4 separate regions of the Homo sapiens genome follow, and all the other regions are linked to region 3. The links come from fine-mapping of genetic effects on gene expression. A gene starts in region 3. Each other region holds a variant in brackets. All regions are shown on one strand. Distances are between the middles of the regions.

Region 1 (8,102 bases), 710 kb before region 3:
TGTAAATTGCAGAGTAGGAAGAGGGCTAGCCTAAATTATTTAAAAACAGCTGGTTACCTGTAACATTCTATAAAAACTCCAGGGAGGCTGGGCGCGGTGGCTCATGCCTGTAATCCCAGCACTTTGGGAGGCCAAGGCGGGTGGATCACTTGAAGTCAGGAGTTTGAGACCAGCCTGGCCAACGTGATGAAACGCTGTCTGTACTGAAAATACAAAAATTAGCCAGGTGTACTGGTGCGCATCTCTAGTCCCTGCTACTTGGGAGGCTGAGGCAGGAGAATTGCTTGAACCTGGGAGGTGGAGGTTGCAGTGAGCCAACATTGCACCACTGCACTCTAGCCTGGGCAACAGCGTGAGACTCTGTCTCAAAAAAACCCCCAAAAACAAACAAAAAAAAACTCCAGGGAAGGAGATTCCACAGATTCCTTTGACTGAAACAATATTTTTTCGGTGGGGAGGGGATGGAATATTGCTCTGTCGCCCAGGCTGGAGTGCAGTGGTACAATCTCGTCCCACTGCAACCTCCACCTCTGGGTTTCAAGAGATTCTCCTGCTTCAGCCTCCCAAGTAGCTGGGATTACAGTTATGCGCCACCAAGCCCAGCTGCTAATTTTTGTATTTTTAGTAAAGATGGGGTTTCATCATGTAGGTCAGGCTGATTTGGAACTCCTGAGCTCAAATGATCCACCTGCGTTGGCCTCCCAAAGTGCTGGGATTACAGGCATGAGCCACAATGCCCGGCCTAGATTTTTTCATAAAATTATTAATTTAGGCTGGGCATGGTGGCTTATGCCTATAACCCTAGCACTTTGGGAGGCTGAGGTGGGATTATTGCCAGGAGTTCAAGACCAGCCTGGGTAACATGGCAAGACTCTGTTTCTACAAAATTAAAAAACAAACAAACAAACAAACAAACAATAATAATCTGGGCATGGTGGCTCATGCCTGTAGTCCCAGCTACTTGGGAGGCTGAGGCAGAAGGACCACTTGAGTCCAAGAGTTTGAGGTTGCAGTTAGCTGTGATTGAGCCACTGCACTCCAGCCTGGGCATCAGAGTGAGACCCTGTCTCTCTCTTAAAAAAAAAAAAAGAAAGAAAGAAAGCAAATTACTTTGAAATTCCCACAAGAAATCAGTGTTCACTGCAGAAAAATATAAAAATTACACACAAGTCTCTCTATTCTCCCCATATCAATCCAATATTTCTACCAGGAGGTAACTGCTGATAACACTTTAGTATATTTCCTTCCTAAAGGACTCTTTCCTGGCCAAGAAATATACATACATATCATCATTTTTCATTTTTACTAGCTACATAGCATTTCACCATAAAGATATATCATACAAATTTGTTTAATTGGTTCTGCATCATTATTAGATTGTTTCCAATTTTTGCCTTTTTTTTTTTTTTTTGAGACCAAGTGTCACTCTATTGCCTGGGCTGGAGTGCAGTGGCACGATCTTGGCTCACTGCAAACTCCGCATCCCGGGTTCAAGCGATTCTTCTGCCTCAGCTTCCTGAGTAGCTGGGATTATAGGCGCATGCCACTGTGACTGGCTAATTTTTGTATTTTTAGTAGAGACGAGGTTTCACCATGTTGTCCAGGCTGGTCTCGAACTCCTGACCTCAAGTGATACGCCTGCCTGGGCCTCCCAAAGTGCTGGGATTACAGGCGTGAGCAACCATCTAATTTTTTTCTTTTTAAACAATGCTGCAATAATCATTTTGTATACTCTTTTAGGATAAACTTTCAAAAGTTAATTTAAAAAAAAATTTTTTTCCCCAAAGGATTCAGGAATAAGAAATGCTCTTGGTACTATTCTTGCTACTCTGCATTTATAAAATTACCTTTCGAAATGTATAGCCTTCGAAGAACTGAGAGATCATCCCAATGGCTCTTAATTATCATCATTGTCATCATCATCATCATCCTATTTCTGGTTTTAAGAAAAAAAAAATATATGTATATATATTTTTTGAAATGGAGCCTTGCTCTGTCGCCCAGGCATGATCTGGGCTCACTGCAACCCCTGCCTTCTGGGTTCCAGCAATTCTCTGGCCTCACCCTCCGAGTAGCTGGGACTACAGGTACATGCCACCATGCCCTGCTAAATGCCTCCTGAGTAGCTGTGACTACAGGAACATGCTACCATGCCCGGTTTCACCATGTTGGCCAGGCTGGTCTCGAACTCCTGACCTCAGGTGATCTACCTGCCTCGGCTTCCCAAAGTGCTGGGATTACAGGTGTAAGCCACCGTGCCCGGCCAGGATTCAATTTTTTTTTGAGACAGAGTCTCGCTCTTTTGCCCAGGCCGGACTGCAGTGGCGCTATCTCAGGTCACTGCAAGCCCCGCCTCCCGGGTTCACGCCATTCTCCTGCCTCAGCCTCCCGAGTAGCTGGGACTACAGGCGCCTGCCACCGCGCCCGGCTAATTTTTTGTATTGTTAGTAGAGACGGGGTTTCACCATGTTAGCCAGGATGGTCTCGATCTCCTGACCTCGTGATCCGCCTGCCTCGGCCTCCCAAAGTGCTGGGATTACAGGCGTGAGCCACTGCGCCCGGCCCAGGATTCAATTTTTATGAGGAAGTTAGAGTAGTCAAAATCATAGACACAGAAAGTAGAATGGTGATTGCCTCGGCCTGGAGGGAGAGGGCAGTGGAGAGTTACTTTTTTTTTTTTTTTTTGAGATGAAGTCTCACTCTATTGCCCAGGCTGGAGTGCAGTGGTGCAATCTCAAGCACACTGCAACCTCCGCCTCCTGGGTTCAAGTGATTCTCCTGCTTCAGCCTCCTGAGTAGCTGGAATTACAGGTGCCTGACACCACGCCCAGCTAATTTTATATTTTTAGTAGAGACGGGCTTTTACCATGTTGGCCACGCTGGTCTCAAACTCCTGACTTCAGGTGATCCACCCATCTCAGCCTCCCAAAGTGTTGGAATTATAGGCGTGAGCCACTGTGCCCGTCCAGAGTTACTGTTTAATGGGTACAGAATTTCAGTTTCTGGAGACAGGATGTGGTGATGGTTGCACAACATTATGAATGTATTTAATACCACTGAACTGTACATGTGGAAATAGTTAAGGTGGTAAATTTTACATGTATTTTACCACAATTAAAAATGCATTTAAGGCCGGGTGTGATGGCTCACATCTGTAATCCCAGCACTTTGGGAGGCTGAAGTGGGCAGATTACATGAGGTCAGGAGTTCGAGACCAGCCTGACCAACATGGTGAAACCCCATTCCTACTAAAAAAAAAAAAAAAAAAAAAAAAATTAGCCAGGCATGGTGGCGCACGCCTGTAATCCCAGCTACTCGGGAGGCTGAGGCAGGAGAATTGCTTGAACCTGGGAGGTGGAGGCTTCAGTGAGCTGAGATCGCGCCACTGCACTCCAGCCTCAAAAAAAAAAAAAAAAAAAGCATTTTAAAAAAGAGATTATATCTGTTAACTAGGATAAAAATTAAATAAAAAATAAATAAATAAAAAAGAGAGTACATATAAAAATGCAGTTTTGGCTGGTGCAGTGGCTCACACCTGTAACCCTAGCACTTTGGGAGGATGAGGCAGGTGGATCACTTGAGTCCAGGAGTTTGAGACCAGCTTGGGCAATGTGGTGAGACCCCTGTCTCTACAAAAGATTAAAAAATATTAGTCGGTCCTGGTGGTGCACGCCTGTAATCCCAGCTACTCGGGAGGCTGAGACAGGAGAATCGCTTGAACCCAGGAGGTGGAGATTGCGGTGAGCTGAGATGGCACCATTGCACTCTAGCCTGGGCAACAAGAGCAAAACTCCATCTCCAAAAAAAAATTACCACGTGCCTGTAGTCCCAGCTATTCAGGAGGTTGATGTGAGAGAATGGCTTGAGGCCAGGAGGTGGAGGCTGCAGTGAGCTTAGATTGCTCCACGGCACTCTCCAGCCTGGGTGACAGAGTGAGAACCTGTCTCAAAAAAAAAAAAAAAAAAAGTCTGGTCTCATTGGCTCATGCCTGTAGTCCCAGCACTTTGGGAGGCTGAGGAGGGAAGATCTCTTGAGCCCAGGAGTTTGAGACCACCCTGGGCAATGTAGAGAGACTCTGTCTCAATTAAAAAAAAATATATATATATACATATATATGTGTATATATATACATATATGTGTGTATATATATGTGTATATATATATACATATATGTGTGTATATATATACATATATGTGTGTATATATGTGTATATATATACATATATGTGTGTATATATATGTGTATATATATACATATATGTGTGTATATATATGTGTATATATATACATATATGTGTGTATATATATGTGTATATATGTGTGTGTATATATATGTGTGTGTGTGTGTGTGTGTATATATATATATATATACACACACACACACA[C/T]ACACACATATATATATTTGAAAAAAAAATCATCTCCACAAAGGATACAAAAATTTAGCCAGGCATGATGGCATGTGCCTGTGGTCCCAGCTATTGGGGAGGCTGAGGTGGGAGGATTACTTAAGTCCAGGAAGCAGAGGTTGCAGTGAGCCATGATCATGTCACTGCACTCTAGCCTGGGTGACAGAGTGAGACCCTGTCTCAAAAACAAACAAAAAAAATGCAGTTTTTAGACAAATACAATTTAAAATATTTGGAGATGTGATTGTAAATAGGTCTAAATAGGCTCAAAGTCCACTAAACGTGGTTGTTAAAATTTATTAGATTCATAAATAGAATATTAAGATTTTTAACCTGAATTTGGAAGCATAAGGGAAAACTTGGATTTTAATGTGTAAGTCTAATAAACCAAATATTAAAAGGAAAAAGAATATGTTGCTTAAAATTATCATAGGCAAGTGACAGAAAATCCCAGATTACAGTACTTTAAACAAGATAGAAGCTTATTTTTCTCACATAAAGTCCTCGGATAAGCAGTCAGGAGTGGTGTGACAGCTCCACAATCATCTGAAACCCAGGCTCCTTCTATCTTGTTGAGCCGCATCCTCAACCTGTGGCTTCCACCTCATGGCCCAAGGTGGCTGCTTAAGCTCAAGCCATCATGTGCACATCTCAGCCGGCAGGAAGTGGGGAAGAAGGGACCCCTACACACATATACTTCAAAGACCAGAACTTAGTCACATGGTCACTACCAATGGGAAAATATTTTGGAAGGCCCTGTGCCCAGCTAAAAAATAGCGGATTCTACTATTATATAGGAAGACAGGAGCAGGGCACAGAGGCTCACACCTGTAATCCAGCACTTTGGGAGGCCAAGGCAGGTGGATCATTTGAAGTCAGGAGTTTGAGACCAGCCTGGCCAACATGGTGAAACCCCGTCTCTACTAAAAATACAAAAATTAGCTGGCCATGGTGGTGAGCACCCATAATCCCAGCTACTTGGGAGGCTGAGGCAGAATTGCGTGAGCCTGGGAGGTGGAGGTTGCAGTGCGCAGAGATTGTGCCATCGTACTCCAGACTGGGCAACAGAGTGAGACTGTGTGCCAAACAAAAAAAAAAAAAAGAAGGGAGGAGCAGATATCAGGGTATGACAGCAGTCCCTGTAAAAGGTAAGCACATTTTTCATTTTTCATACATTTTACCTTCTGTTTCCCATTCCTTAATCAATAGCCTTTTAATGTCTACATTAATCTAACAACAACCTAAACCAATTTCCTGTTGTTCTTGATAGAGAAGAAACATAATTGACTTATGTCTTTTATATAATTGAAAACAATTAAATCTACTTCTAACTTCCCTTCTTTAGACAAAGTAGTTTCCTTTCTAGCTTGACTTGCTTCAAGTTTCCAAACCTTATTCCATCCTGAGATATTTCTCATCTTTTATTGATGTTGCTTTACTTTGGTCCCTAAGTTTGTTATCTCTTTTTCCTACAAAATTATACTTGTTTAAATTGAATTGAATTGAAATATAGTGACTTCATCCTATACTTTCGTTTATTTACTTATTTAAATACTAAGAGTAAAGCTGAACAATTGATGGGTTTTTAACTTCCCTTTTGTCCTCCTTGGTTTTTTTTGTTTTTTTTTTTTTTGAGACGGAGGATGGAGTCTCACTCTGTTGCCCAGGCTGGAGTGCAGTGGCACGATCTTGGCTCACTGCAAACTCAGCCTCCCAGGTTCACGCCATTCTCCTGCCTCAGCCTCCCGAGTAGCTGGGACTACAGGCGCCCGCCACCACGCCCAGCTAATTTTTTGTATTTTTAGTAGAGATGGGGTTTCACCATGTTAGCCAGGATGGTCTCGGTCTTCTGGCCTCGTGATCCGCCTGCCTTGGCCTCCCAAAGTCCTGGGATTACAGGCGTGAGCCACTGCAGCCGGCCTGTCCTCCTTGTTTTTATTAAAAAGACGGATTTTTTTTTCTTTCTTTTTTTTTTTTTGAGACGGAGTTTCACTCTGCCAGCCAGGTTGGAGTGCAATGGCACGATCTCGGCTCACTGCAACCTCCACCTCCCGGGTTCAAGGATTCTCCTTTCTCAGCCTCCTGAGTAGCTGGGACTACAGGTGTGCGCCACCATGCCCAGCTAATTTTTGTATTTTTAGTACAGACAGGGTTTCACCATGTTGGCCAGGCTGGTCTCGAACTCCAGACCTCAAGTGATCCACCTGCCTCACCCTCCCAAAGTGCTGGGATTACAGGCATGAGCCACCACACCCAGCAGAATATTTTCTTTTTACTCGTTATTTTTAAAGACTAGTCAGGTGAATCATAAAAGTTGCTAGCAAACATAATAAGGCATATTCAAGTGATTTGCATGGGGTAGTTAGAAAAAATGTACTGCTGGGATTACAGGCATGAGCCACAGTGCCCAGCAGTATATTTGGGAGGCGGGCAGATCACTTGAGTCCAGGAGTTCAGAGACCAGCCTGGGCAACATGGTGAAACTCCATCTCTACAAAAATTAGCTAGGTGTGGTGGTGCGCACCTATAGTCCCAGCTACTTGGGTGGCTGAGGCTGGAGGATTGTTTGAGCTTGGGGGTCAAGGCTGCAGTGAGCTATGATCACAACACCGTGCAGAGCAAGACCCTGTTTCAAAAAAAAAAAAAAAAAAGAACAAGAAAAGAAAAGAAAAAAATATATACTAACCAAAAATAAAAGAATGTACAAACTAAGGCTATGTGGCACTTGGGGCCGTCTCACATGAGAATGTGACATGGTGACAAGATTTCATCCAAAAACATGCTTTGGCAGAGGAATGGTTTTTAGGGTTGGAAAAAAATTCCTCATTTTTCAGACAAGGGCACCAAGGCCCAAGGAGGTAAAAGCCTTTCCCAAGGTTTTCCACCCCAGTATCCTGGCATGAAGCCAGTTTGTGTAATTACATCTGGATCATGTCAAATTTTGTCTGGGAAAGTGCTATCTTAAAAAGTCAACTATAAAATCATATGTGCTGTATTATCCTATTTTATGAGGGAAATGTACATATAAGTATATAAGAGACTGGAAAGGATGGTGACACTATTAATATGTCAGCAGTAGTTATTTTTGCACTGCAAGATTAAGGGAGGTTCAAGTTCTTTTTTCTTTTATGCATTTCTGGGTTTTCTAAGCTATCTCTATCCCAGCCTATGTTATTTGTGTCGTTAGAAAAAATATTTAAAATATGCACTGTTGTATATTATTTTACCACAAATGGAAGAGATAGAGAAGGGTTGGAAAGTAGTTTTGGATATTTTTAAGTGGGTGTCATTATAAACTGAAAGACGGCAATAAATAAGTGTATTCAGATATCTAAGCCAGTTAATAGTTTTGTCTGGGAAATTAAGAGACAGAGGGACAAATAGCACAGCCGTGAGTAAGCATTACCTCATTTTCCCAAAATCTTTTCCTGACTTCTTTCAAAAGAAGTGCACTGCCCCATGTTAGTTTTTGTTTTGTTTTGTATTTTTTTGAGACAGAGTCTTGCTCTGTCACCCAGGCTGGAGTGCGGTGGCGCGATCTCGGCTCACTGCAACCTCTGCCTCCTGGGTTCAAGCAATTCTCCTGCCTCAGCCTTCTGAGTAGCTGGGATTATAGGCGACCGCCACCATCACGCTCGGCTAATTTTTGTATTTTTAGTAGAGATGGGGTTTCACCATGTTGACCAGGCTGGTCTC
Region 2 (8,102 bases), 52 kb after region 3:
ACAAGGTTAGGGAGGTCTAGAGGCCACATTTGCAGAAGCACAGCTTCCTCTCTCCACACCTTCCACACCTGTCCAGGTTCACCCACGTGGCCTCTGCTTCCTCCCTTCTCCTCCAACCCCACTCTCTGTCTCCGCATGCTGCATCTCCTCCTGCCCAGAGCTCTGGCATTGATTTCCTCACTGGGGAAAGTGGCCTCCTTCCCCAATTCCCATCCACCGATTCCAACCCCCTTCCCATGTCAGCCAGCTTCTCCTCTGCTCAGCTGTCACCTCCACTGAGAAGTCTTTCCTGACTCCCTATGTGAGTCATTTTCCCAGCATAGTTGTCTCCTGTCATTTCTTATTTGTGTGATTCTTTGGTTAACATCAATCTTCCTGATTGGCTGTGTGAGGATGGGCGGGGTCTGTTTTTGTTGTTTACGCCTGTATCCCCAGCACAAAACATGGGGCTGGCATATGGTAGGTACTAAACAGATAGTTGAATAAATGAATGAGTGAATTGTCTACTCTGCCTTTGCACAAGCTGCTCCATCACCAAAGAGACCTTGCCTCCTCCCCCACTTCTTTGCTGGGCCCACTCATACCGGTTTTCCTAGGAAAACTCTGGAGAAAATTGAGGCAGGAGCCACTCATTCGTGCCCCTTCCAGGGTGGACCTCTTATCACCCTAAGGATTGTTTGTTTTCCTGTCACCCACATCAAGCTGGGTGGTGGCCGCAGCCTTTGATCTCCACCTCCTAACCCCTCTCCCAAGTACCCTGTGTTTGCCCAGCACTGAATGAGACAGCTAAAGTGATCCCTGAGAGAACTAAAGTGTTCCCTCAGGCCGGGCGTGGTGGCTTATGCCTGTAATCCTAACACTTTGGGAGGCCGAGGTGGGCAGATCACCTGAGGTCAGGAGTTCAAGACCAACTTGGTTAACATGGAGAAACCCCATCTTTACTAAAAATACAAAAATTAGCTGGGTGTGGTGGCAGGCGCCTGTAATCCCAGCTACTCCGGAGGCTGAGGTAGGAGAATTGCTTGAACCTGGGAGGCAGAGTTTGCAGTGCGCCAAGATGGCACCACTACACTCCAGCCTGGGTGACAGAGCGGGACTCTGGCTCAAAAAAAAATAAAATAAAGTGATCCCTCTAAGAGGAATCCCCAGGGGCCCAGGCCAGAGCTTTCTCCAGGTCACCATGGCTCCTCCCACTGTGCCACCCTGCCTAACCCCCTCGATTTTAAAGGAGAAGCCAAGACTCTGGACTTTGCTCAGAAGGTGGGGGGCGGGGGAGGGAGGGCTTACCCTGGGTACCTCTGAGGGGCCAGGGCGCAGCCACCACGGTAAGGGTGACTGCAGATCGAGGGGCAGGCCATGTTGCTGGACACCACCCTGGCTGGCGTCCCTCTCGGCAGGGTGCTCTTTGCCCCATGGGGTGGGATCCAGAGCTGCAGACAGGCCCCCAGGCTTGGCCAATGAACAGACCAGGTTCGGGGAGGGTGTTGGAAAAGAGTGGATGGGGTGGTTCCCCTTACCTTGCAGCCCCCAGGCCCTCCCCCCTCCCTCCCAGGTGGTCGGGACTCTTGATCTTCGCTCGTGGTACTGTCTGTTCGGCTGTCTTCCCCGCCTCTCCCCAGGCACCTGCATCCTCCCTTGGCACCTGCTGCCAGGCTAGGAAGGGCAAAAACAATCCCAGTTGGCGTAGTCAGGGAGTCTCCGCCCTCCTCCCAGGTTTCCTCCTCCCAGGCGCCTCCCCTGGACCCGCCCCCATCTGCCCAAGATAATTTTAGTTTCCTTGGGCCTGGAATCTGGACACACAGGGCTCCCCCCCGCCTCTGACTTCTCTGTCCGAAGTCGGGACACCCTCCTACCACCTGTAGAGAAGCGGGAGTGGATCTGAAATAAAATCCAGGAATCTGGGGGTTCCTAGACGGAGCCAGACTTCGGAACGGGTGTCCTGCTACTCCTGCTGGGGCTCCTCCAGGTAAGGGGACCGAGATCGGTCTCAGACGACAGCCTGCCAGGCAACCCCCAGCCGCACCAGGGCCCCAGGCTGTGCCAGTCTCCGGCTGAACTGGCCGGCGGCCCAGGTGGGAGGATTGGAGCCACCTGGCTCTCCCCCTCCCCCGCTCGGTGATGTCAGGCCAGGGGCGGGGGCTGGAGGGGGACAGGTAGTTAAGGGCCTGGCGTCTCCCTCCCTGAAGACGTGGTCCCAGCCGGGTGTCCTGACGCTCGGGGTTCAGGTAAGAACCCAAGCGGGCATTTATCCTTTGGGGGCAGGCACGGCCGGTCTGGAGGCCGGTAGGGAAAGGCTGGGTCTCCTGATGGGTTGCTTGGCCTCCCACTTTTCTCTTTTCTGTCCATTTCCCACCCTGCCCCCTCCTCCCCACCCGCCCTCTTTTCGTCCCCATCCTGGTTTCCAGCGCTCCTTGTTCCCTCCCTGTACACCTCCCTGCAGGCAGCAGCTGAGAATGGGAAGGAAGACCTGATTCTCTCCTCCGACTTGGCTTTCCCGCTGAAACTAGCCCCTCCCCGCACACCCGGGGAGAGCCGCCCTCACTCTCTGGCTCGCCCAGTTTACCCCAGTTTGGGTTTCCCCAAGTCTCTAAGACAGACGTCTCTGCGGGCTGCGGGGAGATGTGGGGAGGGCCCCCTCCACTTTGGAGGGCAGTGAAGGAGAGGGATCCTCTAAATTGTCGAGGCTTCATCTCTCCAGATTGTATGCCCTTCTCAGCAACACCGCCTCCGGCCCTCCGATGGGAAAGTGGAGGCCGGGTGAGACGGGGTCCCTCCTGGCTTCAGCATGAAATGGGCAGGAAGGCTGGAGGGGTGTATGAGGGGCTCTGCAGTGCGGTGGGGCCTGGGGAGAGTGGGGTGGGGGATAGCAGATGGTTTCTTCTGCTTGATGAGGCTAGGGAGAGACCCAGGTTCCCGGTCTGGGTCTCCCTGGCAGATTGAGGACAGAGAATGAATGCATCTGCCGGCAAGGTGGAACGCCCCCCACCCCGCCCCCCAACTAGCCGCACCGCCCCCCAGGAATGCCCTCTTTTGGTCCGCCGGTCTTGGACTCTGCTCTCCCCTCTCCTGATATCCTACTGTATGCTTGGTGGGGGGACCTCATGGAGGCGGGCAGCCTGTAATGATTAACTGCAGAGACACTCCAGCATTCTTCCCGAATTAAACTTTAAAAGAGCTGCCCCGCCTTCTCCCATTGGGTATTTTTCCTGAGTGAGAGTGGGCGGGGCCTCAGAGTCCTGGGTCCTCCCTTATACTAGGAGTCATCCAGGGGTTTCTCACCTTCTCACCTGGGCCCTGCACCCTAAAAAATTATAAGCCTCTCCCGTGGGGGCGGGGCGTGGAGTACTGGGCGGACGGGGGCTCTCCCGCCACATCCAGGCCCCTGGCCCAGGCCTCAGTCCCGCAAGCCCTTCCCCCTGCTCTGGGAAGCAGAGTTGTTTTCTGTTGGCCCTGAACACCGGGCCCCGCCACCTGCCCTTAGGGCCAGCCAGGTGGGGCGTGATTCAGGAAGTAAACAAGGAGGTTGGGAGGACGGGAACGCGGGTGGGGCTGGA[A/G]CCACTGGGGGAGGAGGCAGCTGGGAAGCCACGGACGGAGTTACCTCGTTGAGGGGACAAACTGATTTTGGGGGTCGGTGTTTCCAACCGAAGCTTTACCGGGGCCTCAGTTTGAAAACTCCAGATCTCTAAGCTGCCAGGCCCACAGCCAGGACCCCTTCCTCCTCCCTGCTCACCCCATTGGTCTTGACGATTCCACCCGCCTCCAGCCTTAGAAGCTTAAGGGCACGGCTGGGGGGCTCTGAAGGCAAACCCCAGCCTTGGACTGGCCCTCTCTGATCTCTGAGGCCAGGCTCTAATGTGATTTGAATCTACTTCTAACCCCTTCCAAGCACTGCCCTCCCGAATTCTCTGCTCCTCTCCCCACCCCACTGTTGGTCTGTGATTTCGAGGCAGGCGTGGCCCCCTGCAGCCTGGAATGAAGTCACTGGGGCTGTTTGGAGACCGGGGCTGTTTGGAGGTTAGACTGGGGTGGGAGTGGGGGATTGTGTTCTGGTATTGAGGTGCTGGTGTCTCTTGCTAGCGGGTGATGGGTGTGTCGTGCCCCTCCTGGCAGGACCCTGAGCCCCCTCCCTGGCCTTTCATCCTGTCTGTCTTCTTGAGTGTTTTCCCTTTCCACTCCTGCTCCTGTGGTACCCCTCTGGCCGGGACACCCAGGAGAATGTGTCAGGAGGAACTTCATCCACACAGGGCAGGGGCTCTGAGCGATGCTTTGGGTGGGGAGGGGCACCGCCGGGATGCTGGCTTCTCTCCAAATGGGCCTCTGAATCCAGGCCGGGCATTGCCTCTCTCCTTCCCAGGCGAGGGACTCCCTGGCGAGGAGGTGGTTTGGGACTGGGGGTGAGAGCAGATCGTAGGTCCCACCTGGCCTGGAGCTAGGCCGAGGGTGGGGAGGAGGAGGTGATGTCAGGAGCCTCAGGCCCACATCCTCCTCCCCCATCCTGTTCCCAGCCCCGTGCCTCCCCCATTCCGCTCTGGCTAGCAGTGGGTTGGGGAGTTGGGGGAAGGGTGGAGGCAGGGCTGTTTTTGTTTCTCCTAAGCCAGGAAGTTGTGTGGATGAGTCAAGGTTGAATGGAGAGCCCTAGGCAGTGTTGTCCCGCCCGCCCTGACTCACCTGTCCCCCAAATCCCCTGATGCCCTCACTGAAGGGTCAGGTGCCTGCTCCCTCCTGAGGGGTCAATCCCAGGTGCCCCAGGTGGCCTCATAGTACTGGCCCAGTGTTTGGAGAACAGGCTGGGGGCTGGGATTGCAGGTTCTCCCAGGTCTCAGCCCGGCCAAAGGGGTCTGCTGGGTTCCTGCGGAGAAGGTGCCAGCCCCACCTCCACCTCTAGTGCTCGTCTTTGCCTGCTGTCCTGTCTTTACTTGTCTTGAGTGTCTGTGCAGCCCCTATAAGTGATAAGACATGGGTGAGATTGGCCTTGCCTGGGGGTACCAGGTGCCCTCAGACAAATGGGTGGATAGGACAGGTGCACAGTAATGGATGATGCGGCCCCCGCACAGTGCTGAGAGAGAGTCATTCAGTCTGAATGTGGAAGGCCAGGAAGGCTTCTCAGAGGAGGTGGCTCTAGCACTGGGGCTTCAGGAAAGAGTTGGGCAGGAGGATGGCCTGGGGAGGGTACGCAAGGTTTGGGGGCTGCTGGGGCCAGGACCCCTACCCCAGGCCCTGCTCTCCCCCTTGCACTGCAGCGGAGCCCGCTCTCCTGCCTTTCTGACTCCCATCCTTCCCCACCTCCTTCTCCCCTCTGCATCACTCATCACTTGGGCAGGCCAAACCTCGCCAAGTATGAACAGGCTCTGGCAACTGGGTCTGGCAACAAAGTGCTGGAAAAACCCGGGGCACAGCCCAGCGCAGTGAGTGCCCCACACGTGGAGGCAAAGGAGTGGGCCTTTGCCCTGACCCTGAGGGCTGAGCCTGAGAGTCTGTGGGTTGTGAAATCTGTTGTGACCACCAGGCTTGTGGTGGGTGGACCCTCAGCTCTTCCTGTGAGCAACTTTGTGCTAAAGAAAGAGCACTGGAGCCGGGCGTGGTGGCTTACGCCTGTAATCCCAGCACTTTGGGAGGCCAAGGCGGGCGGATCAGGAGTTCAAGACCAGCCTGGCCAACATGGTGAAACCCTGTCTCTACTAAAAATACAAAAATTAGACGGGCGTGGTGGTGGGCACCTGTAATCCCAGTTACTCGGGAGGTTAAGGCACGAGAATTACTTGAACCCAGGAGGTGGAGGTTGCAGTGAGTGGAGATGACGCCGCTGCAAAAAAAAAAAAAAAAAAGGAGAAAAAAAACAGAAAGAGCACTGGACTTGGAGTCTAAACACAGGTTCTACTCCCGACTCACCTGTGACTGAGGGCAAGAATGCTTTCTTCTCAGAGACTCGGTGTCCCCTTTTGTAAAATGAGGCTCATTCTGTCCTTCCCCAAGGGCTTCAGGGAAACTCCAGTTAGAGCAGTGAGGTGCTAGGTAAACTCTGAGGGGCACCCTAACCGCCGTGTGAGGTCAGGAGGTCTGAATTCTCTCATCCCCTCTCCCCAGGACAAGGGCACACAACTGGTTCCGTTAAGCCCCTCTCTTGCTCAGACGCCATGGAGCTGGATCTGTCTCCACCTCATCTTAGCAGCTCTCCGGAAGACCTTTGCCCAGCCCCTGGGACCCCTCCTGGGACTCCCCGGCCCCCTGATACCCCTCTGCCTGAGGAGGTAAAGAGGTCCCAGCCTCTCCTCATCCCAACCACCGGCAGGTACGATGGGGCGTGGGGCTTGGGGGAGGTCAGTGCTGGATAATACACAGAGGCTTGCAGGCCACTGCTCCCTTCCCCACACCTCTCTCCCTTTTTCTTCTTGCCACAGGAAACTTCGAGAGGAGGAGAGGCGTGCCACCTCCCTCCCCTCTATCCCCAACCCCTTCCCTGAGCTCTGCAGTCCTCCCTCACAGAGCCCAATTCTCGGGGGCCCCTCCAGTGCAAGGGGGCTGCTCCCCCGCGATGCCAGCCGCCCCCATGTGAGTTGTCCCTCAGAAGGGAAGGGAGGGATGCACGGGTTCTGGGTCTGTGGGAGATACACAGCCGCTTCCATGGAGGCAGGGGATCTTGGTTAGGAGTCCCTGAGGGTCTAGCAGGTGCGGAAAGGGAATGAATCACCCTTTGCCTCCCCTCAAGTCGTGTGCAATTCCTGGGGCGCAGGTAGTAAAGGTGTACAGTGAGGATGGGGCCTGCAGGTCTGTGGAGGTGGCAGCAGGTGCCACAGCTCGCCACGTGTGTGAAATGCTGGTGCAGCGAGCTCACGCCTTGAGCGACGAGACCTGGGGGCTGGTGGAGTGCCACCCCCACCTAGCACTGGGTAAGTCAGGTGCATGGAACTATCCGGGCTGGGAGATGATGCCTTGCATCTTGGGCTAGGCATGTGGCTCATCCAGGAGATCTGGTTGATCTCCAATAACCCCTGCTTTTTGCCCTTGTCCCCAGAGCGGGGTTTGGAGGACCACGAGTCCGTGGTGGAAGTGCAGGCTGCCTGGCCCGTGGGCGGAGATAGCCGCTTCGTCTTCCGGAAAAACTTCGCCAAGTACGAACTGTTCAAGAGCTCCCCAGTGAGTGCATGAGGGCTGTCTGGGCGCTGGGATGCCCTGATCCTCAACCTGGATGCTGGAGCCCTGATCCCTGACACTTGTCTACCCACAGCACTCCCTGTTCCCAGAAAAAATGGTCTCCAGCTGTCTCGATGCACACACTGGTATATCCCATGAAGACCTCATCCAGGTGGGGGGACCCCCCATTTCACTGCAGATTCACGACTCCCCAGCATTGGCCAGTGCTTCTCCACCCTTAAGTCCTGTGCCTCCCCTCTATGTTGTAGAAAGAGCCAAATCACAGTCCTGTGTGACTGGGGACAGTCACTTTCCCTGCCTGAGCATCAGTTTCTTCTATTAAATGGGGGCGAGAAATGCATGTGGAGCATTTCCTTGTAAAAACCTGAGGGTGGGCTGGGCACGGTGGCTCATGCCTATAATCCCAGCACTTTGGGAGGCTGAGGCGGGAGGATTACTTAAGCCTAGAAGTTTGAGAGTTTGAGACCAGCCTGGGCAACATAATGAGACCTCGTCTCTCCAAAAAAAAAAAAAAAAAAAAAAAAAAGGCCAGGAATGGTGGCATGAGCCTGTAGTCCCAGGTGCTTGGGAGGCTGAGGTGGGAGGATCACTTGAGCTCGGGAGGTCGAGGTTGCAGTGAGCTGTGATCGTGCCACCGCACTAGCATGAGACCCTGTCTCAAAAAGAAAAAGAAAAAGAGAAACATCCTGGTGGTAGAGGGGAAGGGAGGAGGTCAGACCTGTCACTCTCCTCTGCTCTCCTCTGGCTCAGAACTTCCTGAATGCTGGCAGCTTTCCTGAGATCCAGGGCTTTCTGCAGCTGCGGGGTTCAGGACGGAAGCTTTGGAAACGCTTTTTCTGCTTCTTGCGCCGATCTGGCCTCTATTACTCCACCAAGGGCACCTCTAAGGTAAGGTCTTGAGGGTACCAGCCCCAGCCCCTCCAGTCCCTGGTCCTTTTAGAAGTTGCCCC
Region 3 (8,102 bases):
GCTCCAAGTCCTCCAGAAGGGCCCTTGGAAAGACCTGTGGTCCCAGCATCCTCTTTAGCCCCCCATCTCCCCTCTGTGTTTGTAAACTGTCCTACTGGGTCTTTTAGTGGCTTCCTTCTTCAGGACAAGAAAAATGCCCTTCTTTCCTCTCTCCTTCCCAAACAGCCTGACCTAGGGCTCTGCTGGAAAGGTAAGGCCCGATTCAGCACCCTCCCTGTTTTCTCCCCAGGCTTTACCACCCTGCAGCTGCAACTTTAGCCCTGGGAAACAGAGGGGAAGCTGGTAAGTAGAAGCCCTGTTGGGTGTTAATAGGGATGTAGAGCTCCACCTTCCTAGATAAGAGGAGACAGCAGGAGTCCTGCTAGGTTACCTACCCAGGCGAAGGCCACACAGGTGTGGTACATGGGGGAGGAGGCTGGCACGAAGGTGCGGTAGCGGCAGAGCATCACCAGGCTGGCCAGGCCATTGAGAAACGAGGCCACGGCCGATGCCGGCTCTTGAAAGAACAGGAACCGGGAGAAGGGCCACTGAAAAAGGAGCAGATGAAGGAGGTTTGAAGGGCAGGCAACCCTCAACTGGCCCAGTCCACCTATTCTTGACATGCTGAAGCAACAGGTCCTCAGCTGAGTCCTCAGCTCTGGAGTTTGGCCAAAGCCTCAGGTTCAGTACCTCTTCAGACTAATGAGCCACCCTCCAGTGCCTAGTTAAGAGTTATACCCCCATCCTGGCCAGCAGGCACAGCACTGTAAGCCCTGATCTCTGGGAAGACCAGATGGGTCAGGGTAGATGACTCAGTATGGCCTGGTGGAAACAGCACAGAGTTGCCATCCAGAAGACACAGGTCCCAACCCCTCCTCTACCACTGACCACGGTCCTTTGAGCCTCAGCTTACTCTGTGAAAAACTGGGGTGAATACTTCCTGCCAACCTCAACAGGCCAGAATGAGATAATACTGGATTGAAACGTACCAGCAGGCCAGGCGCGGTGGCTCACGCCTGTAATCCCAGCACTTTGGGAAGCTGAGGCGAGAGGGTCACAAGGTCAGGAGATTGAGACCATCCTGGCTAACATGGTGAAACCCCATCTCTACTTAAAAAAAAAAAAAAAAAAATACAAAAAATTAGCTGGGTGTGGTGGCACACACCTGTAGTCCCAGCTACTTGGGAGGCTCAGGCATGAGAATTGCTTGAACCTGGGAGGTAGAGGTTGCAGTGAGCCAAGATCATGCCACTGCACTCCAGCCTGGGCGACAGAGGGAGACTCCATCTCAAAAAAAAAAACAAAAAACAAAAAACAAAAGAAAGAAAGGTACCAGCAAACTGTGCCTCGCTAGACAAGCTGAAGCATATTACTGTGAATCCAGACCCCTACTGGAGAAGCAACAGGAAACAAGCCACAGTAGGTAAGGGAATTTGTCCCTGCAGTAAGGTGGGCATCTCAACCACTCTAAGAGGCCCAGCACCACTCTCTGGGGAGACTCCAAAGCCTTCCAGATATTGCTACTCCAAATCCAGAGGCAGGACACATGGGTCCTATCCAATTCTATGGAAACCAGCAGATTTTGGGGAGAACAGGTAGCTGCCCCAAACACACACGCATTACCCCATGCCTCAGACTGCTTGGACAGTGTGGTCCAACCAGGGGGTATATTACTCCTACCACGCTACTACCATATGCCTACCCTGACCCTCCAACTCACCTTGCCATGGAACTGAGGCACTTTGTGACCTTCCTGGAGGTAGAGCCCAACGGTGACCCACATACACTCATACTTACAGTCGTCCCGACAGGTCCAGCCTGAAACAGACAAATGTGGCCTGGTGAACTCCCCAGCACAGAGAGGAAAGAGAGAGCATGAATGGGGTCCAAGCGCAAATGTAGGCCAAGAGGGCCTGTAAGTTGGAGAGAACCAGGAGAAATCTCAAAATTCTAGCTTCCCCTTTGAATGAATGAGAGATGATGAGATGTACACATAGGGGAAGGTGTATGTACGTATGTATGCATATTTTAGTGAGCAATTAGAGATATTCGTCTTTTTTTTGTTTGTTTTTTTGAGACAGTTTTGTTTTTGTTGCCCAGGCTGGAGTGCAATGGTGCGATCTCGGTTCACTGCAACCTCCGCCTCCTGGGTTCAAGCGATTCTCCTGCCTCAGGCTCCCGAGTAGCTGGGATTACAGGCATGCACCACCACACCCAACTAATTTTGTATTTTTAGTAGAGATGGGGTTTCTCCATGTTGGTCAGGGTGGTCTTGAACTCCCAACCTCAGGTTATCTGCCTGCCTCTGCCACCTAAAGTGCGGGGATTGCAGGCACGAGCCACCGCACCCGGCATTTTTTTTTTTTTTTTTTTTTTGAGACAGGGTCTCGCTCTTTCATCCAGGCTGGAGTGCAGTGGGGAGAGCATGGCTCACCACAGCCTTGACCTCCTGGGCTCAAACGATCCTCCCACCTCAGCCTCCCAAGTAGCGAGACCACAATGTCTGGCTAATTCTTTTATTTTTTGTAGAGAAGGCATCTTGTCATGTTGCCTAGGCTAGTCTTGAACTCCAGGGCTCAGATGATCTTTCTACCTTGGCAGACATTTCCTCTCCTTTTGCTCAAGTCCATCAAGATGTTGGCATCTGATGAACTCATCTATGGAAACCTGGGTTTATATTTGTCCTTCCTGAATATAGGATTTGCTCTTACTCTCCTGGAAGGAGTTCTTGCTATCTTACTCCCTTCCTATGAAAATGAAGCCCAAATTCTTCAACCTGACTTTTGAGGCTCCAAATTGCCTTTCCAACCGTATTGGTCACTACTCCTGTTCATGTACCCTGCTCCCTGAGTAAATAAAGCTCCTGGATGTGCCCACATCTGCCCAGGGCATCCATTCTCTCTGTTCCCTCTGTCTGGAATGCAAAGTGGTATAATAGTAAAGAGGACAAGCTTGTGGTCAAACAGGCCAGAACTGGAAACTCCACTTTACTACATACTGGCTGTGTGACCTTGGGCAGGGCATTTAATCTCTCTAATCCCCATCTGTAAAACTGGGATTAGAGAAACTATCTCAAAGGGTGTGATAAAAATTACTTGACATATTGTGACACCTGTCACACAGTGAGTGCTCAATACGTTGGTTCTTTGCCCACTATGGTCCAAATCGAATGTACCAGTCCAAAGTCCCTCCTTCAAACAAAACGTTCCAAGATGATCCCTGCCCCCACGTCTTCAAAGCCGGAACTGACACCTTCCTATCCCAAATGCTTCCTAATCAAAGAGTCTTTCAGGGGCTCAAATCATTCTCTGCCTTGCACTTGAAAAGGCTCATGTCCCCGTGGGGACTGTGAGTCCCAATGGGCGGGACCCTGGTCTGATTTCTGTGCCATTCCTAGACATTGTGGCCCGAATGTATTTAATAAATACCCTTTTGACTGAACAAATAAGTAAATGAAAGCTTCTGGGAAAGTAAGAGAGGCTGGTAAGGCTCTCATCACCTTAGGGGCTTCACTCACATTCATAAGAGACCTCGTGGGGAAACTAAGGTTCAGGGATTGCAGAGGCGTATTGGGGGCGCAGGGGGCGGGAGCAAGACAAATGGGCGGGGCTTACCGTGGGGGTGGGGCTTACCTGCTAGACTCATGTAGATTGGCTGGCGGGAGCGGAAGTGATTCAGAGCGCCCCCAGAGCAGTTCTGCTCTTCGCACTGCAGTACGCAGTCGCGGTACACCGGCTCACGGTCGCCCTGGGAGCCGCTCGCCAGCGCCGCTGCCCCAGCTAGCAGGACCAACCGCGCCGCCAGGCCGGCCATCCTTTCTCCCTGGCTCGCCGCCGGGGGAGGAGCTTAGGAGTATGAAGCTTCCACTTCCGGAGTAACCGGAAGTTCCTGTGTTCTTTATTCTACTCTCCGCTGAAGTCCACACAGTTTAAATTAAAGTTCCCGGATTTTTGTGGGCGCCTGCCCCGCCCCTCGTCCCCCTGCTGTGTCCATATATCGAGGCGATAGGGTTAAGGGAAGGCGGACGCCTGATGGGTTAATGAGCAAACTGAAGTGTTTTCCATGATCTTTTTTGAGGTAGGGCTGTTTACTGTCACCACCCCTGTCGGATTTTACTTCCTAAACGTACCTGTAACTATCCACTTCTCTCCATCTCTTCTGGCACCACCCTGGTTAAAGACACCATCATGTGTCGCCAAGACAGCCGCAGTAGCTTCTTAATGGCTCTCCCTGCCTCTACTTTTGCCTCTTCCAACCTGCGCTCCATTTTGAAAAATTAAAATTTGCCCATATCACTTTTTTTTTCTTAAAATTATTTACTGGCTCCCAATTACCTTGGGTAAAATACAGTCTCCACAAACCCTGCCTGATTTGGCCCCTGTCCACTGGTCTCCCTCACTCCCTTGCTCCAGACCCGCTTCAGAGGGCTATGTCCCTCAAGCTTCCTGACTGCCTGGCCTGGTCTGAATCACTCACTCTTCTTTTTTCTTCTAGTCGCAATTGAAGTACCACCTCCCGAGGGTGATTGCTTCCCCATGCGGGGTAGAACCTTTGCTGTCCTGTTCACCACTCTACCTCCAGCACAGAATTTGGCTTATGGTAGGCGCTAACTGCGTTTGTTTGTTCTTCTGTTTAATGAATGAACAGCATACATCAACATAAGAACTTGACAAATCCAGGGCTGTAAAATCATCAGTATGGTTCTGCACTGAGATCGGAGAGAAGTAATATTTCTAGGAAAATTAGGAACCCTGGGAACAGGACGCTTGCTTTAGTATCCTCTCCCTGCTCACCTCCCCTGCACTCCCATCAGCACCGACCCACACCCAATCTCATAGAAGCCTTGTAGCTAAGGATCACCCTTTCTCCTCCCCCACTCTCCTCACCCCTTGTCAACTTTTCTTTTTCGTCCTGGGGGTTGGAATGAGTAAGAAGTAGCCTGGGATTCCATTCACTCACTTAACAAACATTTCTGAGTCCTTAGCTCTAGCACCTTGCTAAGCAAGGCAAAATCTCCAGGAGGCACCATTCACATTGCATTTTCTGTGAATGGTGCTCTGGGGAGCAGCATTCACATTGCCTTTTCTGTGAATGGCAAATTCTTCCAGTTAAATATAACATGAATAGTGTCCCCTGGAGTTGACCACCCAACTGATACTGACTGAGAAGCTGAAATGAACAAAACAACCCCTTAGCCCTCCAGGAGCTGACCGGAAATCCAGTGCTAATACTACTTTGCATCTTACAGATTAGTTCTTTTACAATACTGTTTTTTTTTCTTTTTTCATTTCATTTTGTCCTTTCTGTGACTCTGGGATGAGTCTTTTTATGAGGATCCTCATATAAAGATGGACATTTAGGATTAAAGAGGATGAAATCCTGACAAAATAGGGAGTCTCCCCTTTAGAAAATTCCTAAGTAAGGCTGGGGGTGGTGGCTCACGCCTGTAATCCCAGCACTTTGGGAGGCCGAGGCGGACGGATCACCTGAGGTTAGGAGTTTGAGACCAGCCTGACCAACATGGAGAAACCCCATCTCTACTAAAAATACAAAATTAGTTGGGTGTGGTGGTGCATGCCTGTAATCCCAGCTACTCAGGAGGCTGAGGCAGGAGAATCGCTTGAACCCAGGGAGGCAGAGGTTGTGGTGAGCCAAGATTGCGCCATCGCACTCCAGCCTGGGCAACAAGAGCGAAACTCAAAAAAAAAAAAAAAAAGAAAAAGAAAATTCCAATTTTGAAGGCCTCATCCTATATTATGTCAAACATACTGAAATGCAGTAACGCCCCACATTAAATAAGATTTATAAATAACTATACATATATATAATTCAATCTAATTGCTGTTAATAGTTGACATATTGCTACATTTATATACATTTAGTTAAAAAAAATTTTTTTTCCCAGACAGCCTCTCACTCTTTCACCTAGACTGAAGTGCAGTGGCATGATCACGACTCACTGCAACCTCAACCTCCCAGACTCAAGTGATCCTTCCATCTCAGCCTCCTGAGTAGCTGGGACTGCAGCATGCGCCACTATGCCCTGCTAATTTTTTTAATTTTTTGTAGAGACACGGTCTTGCTATGTTGCCTAGACTGGTCTCCAATTCCTGGGCTCGAGTGATCCTCCCGCCTCAACCTCCCAAAGTGCTGGGATTACGGGCGTGAGCCATGCCACACGGCCATAAAATATTAATTTTCGCAGCTTTCTTATATTTTAGAACTAACAATGGAAATTTGTTCGGGTCTAAAGTATTTCAGAGGTCCTTGAAAACCCATGCCTACATACCTGATGGAAAAAGCAATCCTAGGTTAATGGTGGAAGTGGGAGTAGAGACTTCTGTTCTGTTGACTTCTTGGAAGATGGGGTACTGTCTCTCTGGGACAGCTCTTGAGAATTTCCCTGCCAGCACAGCCCCAGATAACAATCTCTAGATGGCGATTACCTGGCCTCTCTTCCCAACTTTCTAGCCTGGAGCCCCTAGTTCTCCCCTGAGCCTCCTTAGCTTGTCCTTCTTCCTAACTTGTATTTGGCTTCAGATGTGATCCACAGTCTGAAAAGTCACTAATTCATTCCTTCAACTCAGGCTTATTGAGTCCTCCTGTGTATCAGCCATTGTACTCATGGGGGAAAAAAAAGACAAAGCATATGTTAATAGTAGAGTGTGCTGGACAGGCACAGTGGCTCATGCCTGTAATCCCAGCACTTTGGGAGGGCGAGGCAGGTGGATCATCTGAGGTCAGGAGTTCGAGACCAGCCTGACCTAACATGGAGAAACTCCTGAGATCGTGCCATTGCACTCCAGCCTGGGCAACAAGAGCAAAACTCCGTTTCAAAAAAAAAAAAAAAAGTATAGTGTGCTAAAGGCTCAACGGCAAGCTGACCATGTTCTTAGATCAAAATTGGTAGAGAGTCTACAATGTGGGTTCCTTATTCATCAAATGTTTATTAAGTTTACCATGTGCAAGTCTCTGGGAACAGAGTGATGAACAAGGCACTGTACTTTTCATGGTCAGAGGAGGGAAACAGGCCATAAACAAGTGTCAAACAAAAGACTGAAGCCAGGTGCGGTGGCTCACATCTGTAATCCCAGCACTGTGGGAGGCCAAGGCAGGCGGATCATGAGATCAGGAGATCGAGACCATCCTAGCCAACATGGTGAAACCCCATCTCTACTAAAAATACAAAAAAATTAGCTGGGCATGGTGGCACGTGCCTGTAATCCCAGCTACTCCGGAAGCTGAGGCAGGAGAATTGCTTGAACCAGGGAGTTGGAGGTTGCAGTGAGCCTGGATTATGCCACTGCACTCCAGCCTGGTGACAGAGCGAGACTCCATCTACATTAAAAAAAAAAATATATATATATATATATACACACACACACACACACACACACACATACCCTCTAACCCAGGAATTTCACTCCTAGGTATACCTACATAAGCTCCAGTATACCTAAACAAGTGCAAATTTGTTTAAGTACAGTTATTTGTGGTAGCATTAGTCATTGTTTTCAATAGCAAGAAGAAAAAGGAAACAACTAAATGTCCATCAATAGGGAATGAATTATATTAATGGAGGGAGAGCCATACAATGGAAGGCTGAACAGAAATTAATAGGAATGGGGCAGATTTGTAATGTACTAGCATGGTAAAACCTTCATGATAGATATAGATATAGATATAGATATAGATATAGATATATATACATATACATATACATATACATATACATATATATATATATATATATATATCTCTTGTGTCTCAGCCTCCCGAGTAGCTGGGATTACAGGTGTGTGCCACCACATCCGGCTAATTTTTGTATTTTTTAGTAGAGACAGGGCTTCACCATGTTGGTAAGGCTGTCTTGAACTCCCGACCTCAGGTGATCCACCTGTCTCAGCCTCCCAAAGTGCTGGGATTATAGGCATGAGCCATCACACCTGGCCAAATATTTTTGATAAGTATCAAGTGCACAGTGCAGAACAAAATATGTGTGTGTGTATGCATGTGTATGTACACCTATACACTTATATACAGTACCCCATGTGAAGAAAAATAAGGGTACGTGTTATGCGCGTAGTATTATGGTTGTTATTTTTGAGAATATATCTAGAAAG
Region 4 (8,102 bases), 380 kb after region 3:
GGAGATGGCGTCCGAGCCTCCCCCTGGAGGGCCCGCCCGGCCTCTGTCCGGCCAGTCTGCTGCGCATTCCCGGGCCGGGCCCCGTTGCCGGCCGCCGGAGCTCCCCCGCCCGCCGCGCCGCGGTTTGTTTACGGTGCGCCGGAGGCCTGCCCCCCCAGCCCCCACCCCTAGCCTCTGAGGCCCGAGTGGCCTTTGCAAAGCTGCCTCCAGCTGCGGAGGGCAGTATGAGTGCGGTGGCGCGGGTGGGCTTGCACGGGTCCGGGGAGAGGGAAGTTCCCCCGCCTCACCCGCCTCCCGGTTGAGCATGGCTGTCTGGTTGCAACACTGCTAATTGCAAAAACGCGGTTGTTGGGGGGGAATGTGTGTGTGGAAGGGGTGTACTTGGTGGTGCCTAGATGATTAGGAGAGTTGCTGGCTGGGGAGGAGAGGGAGAAATGGACCTGTGTGTGTGTACCCCACCTTGTTTCCCTCCCCTTGCAACGTGTCTCTGGTGCCCCTTCTCCATCTGGGGCCCTCCCTTGTCCAGCGTGAAAGAAAGGCCTGGGGGGATGACAGGGGCAATTGAAAGAACCACCGTTCCAGGGGTGGGGGTGGGGGACACAGAAGGAAAGCCAGTGAGGTGGGAGCCTGCCCCTCAGTGCTGGCTTTGGCTCCAGGAGGGGGAGGGGATGAAGGGGGCTGTTGTCCAAAATGAGGGGGGAAGCAAAAGTGACACGCAGACACAGAGATATGTCCACACAGACAGCCACATGCACATCCAGGGACACCCAGGCAGACTCAAGGACAGGAGCTACTGGACACACCCACATGGGGACAAGGGAAGAGACAGGCTGCTGCTGCACCGTGGAGCTCTGAGGGGTGGGATATACCCATGGGAGACCAAGAGCATGGGGACCGATCCATGCACATACCCACGCACAGGGTCACACGTAGATGCTGTCACACACTGGGGCAAGGAGGAGTTGCTGTCACCCACACATAAAAAGTCACTGTCACATGCATGCATGCACACAGAGCAATTGCACACAGCAGCACAATTACAAAAGACCCTGTCACTCACAGGCACACACGTGCTCGCATGAGCCCAGTCACACAGACATCATTGCTTGCCGTGACAGTCGCTGTCACTCAGTCAGATGCAAACACAGTTACACACCAACACATGTATACACAACTTAGCAACAAGTATTTTCCTGGACTCTTTACTGTGGAGCTCTGAGGTTCTGTAGGCAACAAAACCCTTGCTCCCAAGAATATTAAATTTGGCTGTATGAAAAAGTGTTCCTGCGTAATGGTGTAAAGCATGCATTCCCAATGACATGTTCTTGGTCTCTATCGCTTGAGATACCACCCTACTAGACAGTGAGCTCTTGGAGACCTGGGAGAATCACTTAAAGAGCTCTGGATCCCACGCAGAGCCTAGCACAAGGGCTGCTCTGTAAATACTTGTTAGTTGATTGACTGTGGAACCTGCAGACACAGGTGCACTCATTTGCACATGGTCCCCTGAACTCAGGTGCAGAATGAGTTCACAAGGCCCAGGTCCCCACAGTTGCAGGTCCACACCAACAGTCGTGTCCACACAACCCCAGATACACACAACTGCAGCCTGTGCAGCCGAGCACACACTTAGATGCACACAATCACAAATTTTTCCCCTTCAGCTTCCTCCTCCCCTTTTTCCTCTAGGCTCAGCCACTGTGCGGGAATGGGCTGTTTTTTTTTTCTTTCTTTCTTTTAGAGGGACAGAGAAACAAGAGCAAAGACAGTGGGTTCAGGGGGGTTCCAGAGGGCCGAGTCATGGGCTCAAAGCAGTGTCCAGTGACTTCTAGAAGCTAGGATTCTCTTGACTGTTGGGGAAGGGGAGAGCTGCTCTCCTCCCTACCCTAAAAGCTCAGGGGTGTCTAACTGCCCCTGCTCTGAGTCATTTGCCTGGGTCTTTCCTGGGAACAGTCAGTCACTTCCAGCTGAGTTCCTGCGCCCCACCTTGAGTCTGGCCCTTTTTCCCACCTGTACCCTCCTGTCCAAACTTGGAAGCTTTCCTTAAGAGGCCATCGGCTGGCGAGTGTCTGTGTGAGTGATATGTACTTTTGACTTGGAATTTCTCTCTAACTCTGTCTCTCTGTTGCTCTGTCTTGCAGTGTCTGATTCTCCCTCTCTCTCTCCTTGTTTCTCTGCCAGTCTGTAACTCTCTCTCACCCTGTTGCTACCCCCGATCTACCCCTGTCCTTGTCTCAGAGCTGGGGACTGGCAGCAATGTTCTTCATACTTTTCCAGTTGTTAATACCCAAGCTCCGCCCCTCTGCCCCCCCTGCGCAGCCTCTGGGGTCAGCTTGAGGTTGGGGTGGGGGGCGGGGGGCTCAGCTGGCTGCTCAGGACTTCCTGCACTTCCTTAGTGCCGCAGCTGTGGCCAGCAAGTTTTAGGGGCTGGGAATGGGGGAAGGGGGGGGGGGTCAGCCACTGCCCATGCTGACCCCTCGGGCCTGCATGTCTGGAGACACCAGTTCTGTGGGCACCCTCAGGGTGCAGGCTGCAGCCAGCTAGCAGCTCTTAAACAAGCCATGAAGAGGCTCCCCCCACACTGGCCCAAGCTGGAAAAGAACCGCCCCCATGGGCAGTGGCGGGAGCTGGCAGGACCCTGCTGAGTTGGGTCCACTGCAGGGCTCACAATGGCCTTTCTCCACACCCCTGGCAGCTGAGGCCCACCTCAGAGATGCCCAACAGCTGTGTCCTTTTTGCCCAGCCTCAGGGCCTGGTTCTGAGGGCACAGCTGCCTAGACTAAGTATGTACTAAGCGAGGCCCTCCCACCCGTGAGTGCAGGTTCCAGCCTAGAAGGGGTACCTCTTCTGGAGAGGGAATTTGAGGAGGGGGAACTCAGGCAGGAGACATCGAGCCCGGGGGCACCAAGCACTTCTCGCTATGCTCCCCTCTAGCCTTGGACTATTTGGAGGTGGAGGCACTTGGCAGAGAACCCACAGGGCAGCTACAGAGGGGAAAGACTGAGGCTTGGTCTCAGGGAACACATAGCTGGATGAAAGAACAAGGCATTGGGCCGGGCACAGTGGCTCACACCCGTAATCCTAGCACACTGGGAGGCGGAGGCAGGCAGATCACCTGAGGTCAGGAGTTCAAGACCAGTCTGACCAAGATGGTGAAACCCCATCTCTACTAAAAATACAAAACTTAGCTGGGTGTGGTGGCGGGGTCCTGTAATCCCAGCTACTCAGGAGGCTGAGGCAGGAGAATCGCTTGAACCCAGGAGGTGGAGGTTGCAGTGAGCTGAGATTGTACCACTGCACTACAGACTGGGTGACAGAGCGAGACTCCGTCTCAAAAAAAAAAAAAAAAAAAAA[GAAAAAC/G]AAAAAAGAACAAGGCATTATCTATCAAGCAGGTGATATACCATCACAGCTAAGAACAGAGATGATGGTGATGATCATGACGGCCATGATTGACCTGGACTGCCTAGGTCTGAATCCCAGCTCTGTCACTTGCTGGATGTGTGACTTTGAGCAAGCGATTTAACTTCCCCGTTGCCTCATCTGTAAATTGGGGATGATCATATCTACCTCATTTAGCTTTTTTGAGGAAAAATGTTTTTAAAAGTGCCTAGTTCATAACAAACTGTATATGTGAGCGGTTGTGATGGGTGAAGGAAGCTGTGGGCCTGGGGTCTCCCAGATTTCTTAGAGAAGCTTCGTGGAGAATTGGGTCTCCTAGACATCAGTGAGACTGGGGCCTGGGGCAGTGGGTCTCCAATTTCCAGCCTTCTCACCGTCATGTAATCTTTTCCTCCCAGACAAATTTTTGCAGCCTGGAATGAGTGTATGGGAAAGAGCCCAAGGCAGGCCCCTCTGCCCCACCCTCCTTTGACCCTCGCCCTTCAGCTTACAAGGAGCCCTTGGCCCCTCAGCCTGGGACACACCCCACCAGCTAGGGGCACCTGCATAAATCTTTGGGCATCACTGCATCTCTGTTCAGGGTCTGAGCTCTGGGGGTGGGAGAGAGAGAACAAGGAAAGCCGTCCCCTCTCTTATGTGTGGGCTCAAAGAGGAGGCAGTGCCCTTCCTCCCTCCTGGGAGCCCAGCATTGGTCAACCAGGACCCAGCTCTGGCTGATAGGCACCAGATTCCCCTGCCCTCCATGGAGTGGTACTTAGTGTGAAAGGTGGTGGCAGAGAGAAACTGAAGCACTGAGTAATGACCAGTGTGGTGGGCACAGCACTTTGAGATCCAGCATCTGTCCTGGGTTGCCTCTTTGCCTTTGTGAGTCTGGTGATCAGGATCCCCTCTCCAAACCCCTTTTATTTAGCCCTGCCCCTCAAGGTGAAGGAAGGACAATGGGAGGATACCCTGTAGGGGTGACGGGAAGCCTTTGGAGTGGGAACCAATCTCAACTCTAGTTCTCGGCTGGGCACAGTGGCTCATGCCTGTAATCTCAATATTTTGGGAGGCCAAGGCGGGAGGATCACTTGAGGCCAGTAGTTCATGATCAGCCTGGTCAACATAGTGAGACCCCATCTCTAAAAACAACTTTAAAAAGTTAGCCAGGTGTGGTGGCGCATGCCTGTGTTACCAGCTACTTGGGAGGCTGAGGCCGGAGGATCGCTTAAGCCTGGAAGGTCGAGGCTGCGGTGAGCTGTGATTGTGCCACTGCACTCTAGCCTGAACAACAGAGTGAGACCCCCCACACACACATCCTCTCAAAACAGACAGAAAACAAAACAAAAAACCCAACTCTAGTTCTCATGGCTGCAAAGGTGTCTAGGGGACTTTGGAGAACTGTTGTGTCTCTTGGGGAGGGAGGCAAGCATGACCGTGGTGGGAAGATCACTGGCTGGGAGTTGGGAGGCCTGGCTGTTGACATTCACTAGTCGTATGACTTTGGGCCTGGGTTTTCATTATCTAGAGACAATGGTTCCTGTCTCACTCAGGTTGAGGGCAAATAACACAAGGTGGGATGACCCCTGTGTTCAATCCATGTTGCATCCTGGCATGGTGAGCAATGCCTGTGGATTCTCCTTTTTTCCCAGGGCCTGGCACATGCCAGGGTGGGGCATACACATGCTGCCTGGAACCAGAGACAGTTCTCAGTCTCTCACTGAAGTATCTGGGGCTGGTGTGTGGTGGGGGCACATGTGGTTCCACCTTGGTGTCACTTGGCAGGCCAAAGCTGGGGTCATAGGGACCTCCCTCCGGTATGCCATTGCGTGAGGTGGTCCAGAGGGAGGGTCAGAAGTTTGCTGGGTAGACAAGGGAAGCAAGATGGGTGTTACTGGTGCCCAGGAAATACTATCCTTGCTTCGCTGTTTTGGGGGTGGGCATTAAAGGTTGATACCAAAGCCTCAGCCATGCCCCTCAGCAGTGGCCAAGAGCAGAATGATTGGACCAAGCCCCTGGCCCACCTCCTCCTCCTCCTCTTTTCCTCTTCTAAAGAAGAGATCGGCTCTTGGCTCCCAGAGCCCCAGCTGCCTGTTTCTTTTTCTCTTTTACCAGGCATGGGGGTGGGGAAACAGGGGAACCGAGGCTTTGGTGTCTTTCGGCATTTTTGTACACATCAGTGAGTGGGTGTGTTGTGCACGCATCCATGTGAGAGTGTTTTTGTGCATGTGTGGGCTGGGGAGGGCTCTGAATATCTCCTGGAACGGTACCCAGAGCCCTGTGGCTCTGCGCATGCGGGGTGAGTGTGTGTGTCTGCACGTGTCCGTGTGTGTGCCGGAGACTCAGCTGCATTCACGCGCGCGCTCTCTCCCTCCCTCTCTCCCTCCCTCTCTCTCTCCCTCCCTCCCTTCCTCTTCCCTCTCCCTCTCTCTCTCCCCCTCCCCCTCTCTGTCTCTCCCTCCTTCTCTCCCTCCCTCTCTCTCTCTCACACACACACTCTCAATCTTTCTCTCTTCCCTCCCCCTTCCTCCCTCCTTCCTATTCCCTCCCTCCTCCCTTTCTGTCCCTGTCTCTCTGTCTCTGTCTCTGTCTCTCTCTCTCTGCCTCTGCCAGTTCTGCTTGGTTAGGGGCTAGCTCCAGCCTCTGGGGTGCCTGGGAGAACATCCCTCCCTTTCTTTCCCCCTCCACCATTCCCTCCCCTCCTAGGCCATGCTCTTCAGGGCTTGCAGGCAACTTCTTCTACTGCCTTAGATGAGGGAGTGAGGAGGGAGGACCCCAAGCCTTGTGCCCATGGTGCCATCTGCAGCAAGTGCCTTGGCCCCGTGACATTCATGCCTCCAGCATTCAGCTGCCCCAGCTCCCAGCTCCAATTACCCGCTGGCTGCTGGGGGAGGGTGGGGAGAATGTGCCGTGCCCAGCTTGGGGGTGCTCCTGCTTCTGCTTTCTTGGCTACTTGGATCTCCTGCCTCCATTCCTGAGGGGAATTGGGCAGGGGGGGCGTGAAGTTCTGTGGGCTGATAAGGAGGGGCTGAGTTCTCCAGCATGGGTGTGGGCATGACCACCCACCAGTGGTCATGGGGGATGGATGTGACCTGGGAGGAGACCTCCAGACCTGGGCACCCACCTTGATGCCTGGCTGGAGCTGGCCCGGGCAGGAGGAGGGAGAGGAGAGCAGCAGGTGGGTGAGGCTATGGGGGAGCCGAGTGGGAAGCAGTCTTTGATGTTAATACTGGGCATCTGGCCCAAGTCAAGGCTGCTGTTTATGTCTTTCTGTCTCTGACCTGCAGGGGGGGTTTCCTGTTATATTCTTTTGGGGCGGGGTGGGGAGGATCCTTTGTTTAAGTAACCAATCTCCCCCTTATGAGGATCCCCACCCCATCTCCCATTCTCTAGCCTCTAAGGTCCCACAGTGGCTAGGTGATGAGTCACTGCCCCCCAGCTCCAGAACCTGTCTCCTGGGGGCCCAGTGAGAGCTCACCAAGGGGTGCCGCCTCCCCTCCTCCCGTCTCCCCCATGCCTGCCAGGCTGGGGCCCTGAGTCTGTGTGTACTCCTCTGCCACATCACACCTGCCAAATAGTACCTTCCTTCCCGCCTTCACTCCTCCTCTCCTTCCTGGCACTAGGATAACAGAGAGTTGGGTGGGGCAGCCCTGCTCAATCCATACCTGAGAATAGAACAGGGGGTATGGGAAAGGACAGGGAGTCCCGGTCCTAGAGAGGCCTCTGCCCCTCAGCATGGGGGCACATGTCGCTGCTGCAGCACTGCCACCACCACAGACTCCCAGGGGCCCTTGGTGTGGGTGGCTGCCTGTGGTGCCCGTGTTGGCATGGGGGGCAGTGCTGCCCATAGACGCCTGTGCCCATGCATGCCCATTTATGTGTCTGGGCCACGGTGGCCGCCCCGGCCCCTCAGCATCGCCCTTCCTGGCTCCCATGGTGGGAGGCTGGGTGATCAGGAGTGGGTGGTGGGGGAGGGATCTCCCCCCACCCTAGCAGCAGGCAGAGGGGAAGGGGAGAGGGAGGTGTGAACCTACCCACAGAACTATTAATAGCCCACATGCCAGGCCACCAAGAACCAGCTGTCACCGTGGAAACCATTCCTACGCCCCCCTCCCCCCAGCCTGCATGGGGTGGGACTTAGACAGGGTACGAAGCCCCCCACCCATCTTTCTTTGTTACCTTTCTCTCTTTGTCTCCCCTCCTTCATGTGTCTCTCCTCCCTTTATCTGTCCTCCTTTCTACCTCACCCCTTCTCCCCATCCCCCATCTCTGGCTCCCCTTTCTTCCTCTCCCTCTACTGCCTTGTCACCCCTAGCTCTACCCCAGCCCTGTCCCATTTCTTTGTTCTTCCCCCTCCTCCCTTCTTCCCTCTTTCCCCCACCAGCCTTTTTACCCCTCCTCCCATCTTTCCACCCTTTTCTCAGCCGCCCCGCATGTACGTGTCCCTGTGGCTGGCAAGGAGGGCTGGGCTTTCTTCAGAGCACTAAGGACAAAGTTCAGGGGCCCCAGAAAGGTGGGGCCAAAGCCCAGAGCAGATACGCAGGAGGGTTAATGCGGGTAGTATTGGGGGTTAGATCCTGGGGACAGAAACTCCCCTCTGGCAGCCCCAGGAGTCCTTTGGGGGTGTCCTCAGATATACAGGACTGCAGAGTGGGACGGCTCGGCAGTGGGAACCTGGCGGGGCGCCCGTGGATGCCGCATTGGCCCCGTGTCCCTGTCCCCCC

Evidence for each region.
Region 1: its variant is fine-mapped to the expression of PGAP3 in whole blood (INTERVAL, PIP 0.92).
Region 2: its variant is fine-mapped to the expression of PGAP3 in whole blood (TOPMed, PIP above 0.99).
Region 4: its variant is fine-mapped to the expression of PGAP3 in whole blood (INTERVAL, PIP above 0.99).

What each region holds. Positions count from the first base shown.
Region 1 is chr17:38,973,336-38,981,437 of GRCh38, forward strand. No RefSeq gene overlaps it. Among named protein-coding and RNA genes, the nearest start is that of FBXO47, 10 kb to the left of the region's middle. The variant C/T (reference allele first, on the strand shown) is at 4,386.
Region 2 is chr17:39,736,168-39,744,269 of GRCh38, forward strand. It overlaps GRB7 (growth factor receptor bound protein 7), which reads left to right and starts at 1,771. Exons shown (of 15, transcript NM_005310.5): 1 at 1,771-1,966; 2 at 6,085-6,289; 3 at 6,399-6,549; 4 at 6,731-6,887; 5 at 7,013-7,134; 6 at 7,226-7,303; 7 at 7,903-8,040. The coding sequence starts at 6,135. RefSeq lists enhancers at 4,031-4,628, 5,227-5,824. The variant A/G (reference allele first, on the strand shown) is at 3,555.
Region 3 is chr17:39,684,223-39,692,324 of GRCh38, forward strand. PGAP3 (post-GPI attachment to proteins phospholipase 3) reads right to left here and starts at 3,835. Exons shown (of 8, transcript NM_033419.5): 1 at 3,612-3,835; 2 at 1,700-1,797; 3 at 375-527. The coding sequence starts at 3,792. It also overlaps a transcript of ERBB2 not described here. RefSeq lists enhancers at 3,854-3,963, 4,674-5,634 and a silencer at 4,914-5,208.
Region 4 is chr17:40,063,331-40,071,432 of GRCh38, forward strand. All of the region lies in intron 1 of THRA (thyroid hormone receptor alpha), which reads left to right. Among named protein-coding and RNA genes, the nearest start is that of THRA, 4.4 kb to the left of the region's middle. RefSeq lists a silencer at 38-137 and an enhancer at 7,568-8,102. The variant GAAAAAC/G (reference allele first, on the strand shown) is at 3,355.